2 separate regions of the Homo sapiens genome follow, and region 1 is linked to region 2. Evidence: fine-mapped expression QTL. Tissue or cell type: whole blood. Region 2 holds a variant in brackets; the other region holds the start of a gene. All regions are shown on one strand. Distances are from middle to middle.

Region 1 (2,617 bases), 130 kb before region 2:
ATGGGGTGCAGTGGTTGTACCTGGTGACTCAGGACATTCGTCTACCTCCTCATGTCCCCCCTGCCTCTAGCACCACAGTGTCATGCCCTACCCTCCAGGGGGCCCAGAAAGCAGTGCTTTTGCCCAGGGCCATTGTCCCCTAGATAGAGGGTTCAGCCCAAGGAGGGCAGCCCTGATTCCCAAGCCTCCTGCAGCACTGACTCTCCACTGCAGCAGGCCTGGGGTTTCTGGCCATGGCTCGCCTTTGGCTCACCTCTCCAGAAGGTCTCTGGAAGCTTCTTCCCCACAGGGTCCTCCCTTCCACTGTAACCTTCCCTGGTTCTGGGAAACAAACTTGAGAGGCCCAGGCGCACCCCACCTCTTCTCTTTAGGTCTCCACAGCTTTTCCTCTGCCTCGTCCCCAAGGGGATCACTCTGGCCTTTCCCCTCTCCAGTGACCCTCTCCACACCCTCCCGGCTTCCCCCTTCCTCTGAGCACCCCAGATGCCAAAGGACAAGGTGAGGGAGCCTTTGGAGAAATGTTGCCTGACGTCACTGGTCCCCCACGCTCGGGGGACCCACACGGCCCGCCCTGCAGGCAGCCCCCTCCCCGCAGGCAGCCCCCTCCCCGCAGGCCGCCCCCTCCCCACCTCACCTCACAGCTGCAGGGGTCGGGGCTCGGAAGTGCTGGGGGCAGTTCAGGTTGAAGGCTGGGCAGCGTGCACTTCTCCCCCAGCCTCCTGGGGCCCGGGCATCACCGGAAGCGGAGTTTGTTCCCACTTTGTATCAGTCGCAAAGAAAGAGCACCCAATTGGACAAAAGGCAAGCAGGCTGCGTTCCTGGCCCGGAGTGGAGAAGAGTGAGCCCCTGCCCTGTCAGGGAAGCTGAGGCTGGGGGTTGTGAGGAGTCCCGTGCCGGGAGGAGGCTGCAGGAGCGCCTCAATGCACCTCTTGATACCACGCATGCTTAGCAAGGCCTGGGGACTGTCCTCTCGGGCAGGACTTCCGCCTTGTAATGACATGTCGCTGATTTAAAGGGAACTGGGGGTCACCAGCTCTGGTTTGTGCAAGTCTGGTGCGTTCTTATCTCCCTTGTATTTGGCAGGGGATCCTAAACCTCTCCTGGTATGTTGAGACATCTGGAGCTCATTAAGCCTCGGCGCCTGTAGATAAAGAGATTAAAGGAAAAAAGAAAAGAAATCCCGCCCTGGGGCAGCTGGGGTAGGATTAGCCTGGAGGCCACGCCTCTGCAGGGTCTCCCATAGGCTGGGCCAGCCTCTGCCCTCCCTGCTTCCAGAACCCCGGACGCTGATGGCCTGTGGCGGCCACTCTCCGCCCACCCCGGAGCCCAGCCTAGCGGGGAGAAGGCCGCCGGCCCGTTCGAATGTCCCTCTGCTTCCAGGGTCAGCCTGCACGCCACTCTCACAGAGGCCAGACGGGCGGTGGGGCGGGGACTCAGTTCATCCTCTGCCTGAGGAGCAGGTCTCGGGTGCGACTGAGCTTTTCACCCTTTGAGAGGAGTCAGGGACACGCAGCGTCTCCAGCAAGCTGGTGGCAGAAACTGATGGAGCATCCTAATCACAAAATAGGAAGAGAGTTTGCAAAATAGGAGCATTTACCAGAAGCCTCTCTCTCTCCCTCCCTCCCTCCCTCCCTCTCTCTCTCTCTCCCTCTCTCTCTCTCTCTCTCTCTCTCTCTCTCTCTCTCTCTCTCTCTCTCTCTCTCTCTCTCTCTCTCTCTCTCTCTCTCCCTCCCTCCCTCTCTCCCTCTCTCTCTCCCTCCCTCCCTCTCTCTCTCCCTCCCTCCCTCTCTCCCTCCCTCCCTCTCTCTCTCTCTGTGTGTCTCTCAAGTAGAAGTGGGGTCTCTATGTTGCCCAGGCTGCTCTCGAACTCCGAGGCTCAAGCGATCCTCCTGCCTCAGCCTCCCAAAGTGCTGCGATTACAGGTGTGAACTACTGGGCCCAGCCCCAGGCCCTCTTACAGGAGTGGGCTGCCTAGAAACATTCCAGTGCCATATCCCACTCCACTCCGGGTGCAGGGACAGGACCCCTGCCACCCCCAACCCAGGCCCAAAAGGAGGGGCCAGGAGGGGAGGGGCCACCAAGGCAGGTGAGCTGCTTAAGAGGAGCGAGGGCTGTGGACAGTCCTGCGGACTGCAGGAGGGGCCAGCAGGATCAATATCCAGCTTCTCTCTCCTGCTGGGCTCCTGCTGGGGCTCCCTGTTGGTCACCCCAAAACCTACTGTCTCTCATCGCTGCCGGGGCTGGCCAGGCTCAGCTGCTGGTTCTGCCTTGGGGCACCTCCTAGGTGGAGTCAGGGTGGCTGAAGGCTTCCCCACTCATGCGTCCACTGTCTGGACATCCTGCCCCTGCCCGACCTCCAGGAGTTGCAGTGTGTGAAGGCCACACCACAGCCCCTCTCTGCTGCCTCCCTCATGTCTCCTCCAGAATGATGCTCTTAACCCCCTCATTAGAGGCCCCCATCCTTCCCAACTGTACCTCTTGACACCCTGAGTACAGTTCAAGAGACCCTGAAGAAACTCAGAAAAGTGACAACTGGAGGCTCTGGGAGAGAAGAGTGAAGTCACTCACATTTGTTTTTATTTACTTATTTTTTTTTTAGAGATGAGGTCTTGCTTTG
Region 2 (2,751 bases):
CTTACCAGTGAAATGTGTGCCTGCGAATGGGTGTGTGTGTGTGTGTGTGTGTGTGTGTGTGCCTGCCTAATTCCATGCAACTCTGTCCCACATGTAAATTTTTGTGTTTTTAAATGTAAGCTTAATTATTACTCAGTTGTGGTGAGGCCCACAGGCCAGGAGAAGACTGTGATTGAAGAAATAGTCTGTTACTGACAGCGTGCAGTGGCAGGGCTGTTCTTGCCATCATGACCTCATTGGAAGCATCCGGGTCAATCTGAAGGCAGAGGTTCTAGTTCTTCCTGGGGGAGGAGCCAGTGAAAGCAGGGTAGGCAGGCTTGGGACTGATTGCTTTGCATGATTACCCAGGGCTGCGAGTCACAGGGATTGTCTCTGGCTGTCTGGTGCCTGACTCTGGGGGAATCTGTTCAGGGGAGCTGTGGCCTGGAGTGTGCAACAAGGTGGCTGGCAAGACTTCACAGGAAAGGCATTCACCAGGGGGGACCTTGACCATCTGTAGTAACTGGCCAGCCCTGGTAGGGCATCCTGTCCAGGATGCAAGCCCAGAAAAGCATCAGAAGCACAGAAAATAACAAGGATGATTACATGATTGGCCTGGTGATGCTTGGATGTCATTATTGAGAAAGCACTAGCATTAGTTTCTTTATCCACTTGTTGATTGATGGGTGTTTGGGTTGGTTCCACGTTTTTGCACTTGCAAACTGTGTTGCTATAAACATGCGTGTGCAAGTGTCTTTTTTGTATAATGACTTCTTTTCTTCTGGGTGGATTGCTGGATCAAATGGTAGTTCTACTTTTAGTTCTTTAAGAAATCTCCACACTGTTTTCCATAGTGGCTGTACTAGTTTACATTCCCACCAGTATTTAGAAGTGTTCCTTGTTCATTGCATCCATGCCAACATCTATTTTCTTATTTTTATTTTTTGATTACGACCATTCTTGCAGGAGTAAGGTGGTATCACATTGTGGTTTTGATTTGCATTTGACTGATCATTAGTGATGTTGAGAATGTTTTCATATGTTTGTTGGCTATTTGTTTATCTTCTTTTGAGAACTGTCTATTCATGTCCTTAGCCCACTTTTTGATGGGTTTGTTTGTTTGTTTCTTGCTAATTTGTTTGAGTTGATTGTACATTCTGGATATTAGTCCTTTGTCAGATGTATAGATTGTGAGGCTTTTCTCCCACTCTGTGGGTTGTCTGTTTACTCTGCTGACTGTTCCTTTTGCAGTGCAACAGCTCTTTAGTTTAATTAAGTCCCAGCTATTTATCTTTGTTTTTATTGTATTTGCTTTTGGGTTCTCGGTCATGAAATCCTTGCCTAAGCCAATGTCTAGAAGGGTTTTTCCAATGCTATCTTCTGGAATTTGTATAGTTTCAGGTCTTAGATTTAAGTCCTTGATCCATCTTGAGTTGATTTTTGTGTAAGGTGAAAGATGAGGATCCAGTTTCATTTTCCTACATGTGGCTTGCCAATTATCCCAGCACCATTTGTGGAATAGGATGCCCTTTCCCCACTTTATGTTTTTGTCTGCTTTGTTGAAGGTCAGTTGGCTGTAACTATTTGGGTTTATTTCTGGGTTCTCTATTCTGTTCCTTGGT[C/A]TATGTGCCTACTTTTATACCAGTACCATGCTGTTTTGGTGACTATGGCCTTATAGTATAACTTGAAATAAGGTAATGTGATGCCTCCAGATTTGTTCTTTTTGATTAGTCTTGCTTTGGCTATGGGGGCTCTTTTTTGATTCCATACGAGTTTTAGGACTGTTTTTCCTAGTTCTGTGAAGAATGATGGTGGTATTTTGATGGGAATTGCATTGAATTTGTACAACATAATTTCAATACACCTGAGAACTACACATATATTTGAAGAATAATACTTGGTGTGTTGCTTGTGTCAAGGTAGCAGGTTGATCAATTATGTTTTTGGAGCATAACAATTGGTAAATTAGTAAAGTATATGTAAAGATTAGTGGCATTTTTGTGTAACCAAGGAAAAAGAGTGGTTGTGATGGTTAGAGATGCAGCGTAGAAGGTCACGGTAGAATCCTGGACAAGATTAGTAGGAGAAGTTTCTGGAGAGTGAGTGGTCCTTTCCCTGGAGGTAAGATGTTGATATGAGACAAGTACCTTCTGGGGAAAGTGATAATCTCCATTAATTTTCAGAGTGGCACAGAGACCATCAACCTTTTCCAGGTGTCTCTTCGGCACGGGAGTGTAGGGGTGTGGGTGGTTCTGGAGATCAGGGATTTTATAAGGATCATGGGTGTTATACATGTGTTGCGTCTCCCAGAAATTTCTGTGTTGAAATCCTAAGCCCAGGACCTCAGAATATTACTGTATTTGAAGACAGAGTCTTTAAAGAGATAAATAATGTGAAACCAGGTCATTGAGGTAGACCCTAATCCAATATGACAGGTGTCCTTGGAGGAAAAGGGATTAGAACCCAGGCACAAACAGAGGGTGTCTCTGTGATTTGGTCAATAAACCAAGAAGAGAAGCTTGAGCAGAAACCATCCCCCCGAACACCTTCATCTAAGTCTTCTAGCCTCTGGAATTGTGAAAAAACAACTTTCTGTTGTTTAAGCCACCCAGTCCAGGGTACTTTGTTATTGCAGCCAAAGCAAACTAACGTGATAGGCTAAGCAGTCAGCAAGCTGCAGAAACTCATTACAATTGCTAAAACCAAAGAAAGAAAAGCAATCCATGTCCTGTGTCCAGTTCATGCCTTAGTGTAGCTGAACCCAGGCTTGGC

The links. PIP is the estimated chance that this variant, and not a neighbour inherited with it, causes the effect.
Region 1: LY6S-AS1 starts here. The variant in region 2 is fine-mapped to the expression of LY6S-AS1 in whole blood (TOPMed, PIP 0.97).

The regions. Positions count from the first base shown.
Region 1 is chr8:143,037,587-143,040,203 of GRCh38, reverse strand. LY6S-AS1 (LY6S antisense RNA 1) reads right to left here and starts at 995. Exons shown (of 6, transcript NR_149322.1): 1 at 635-995. RefSeq lists an enhancer at 772-1,323.
Region 2 is chr8:142,907,627-142,910,377 of GRCh38, reverse strand. No RefSeq gene overlaps it. Among named protein-coding and RNA genes, the nearest start is that of CYP11B2, 8.8 kb to the left of the region's middle. The variant C/A (reference allele first, on the strand shown) is at 1,602.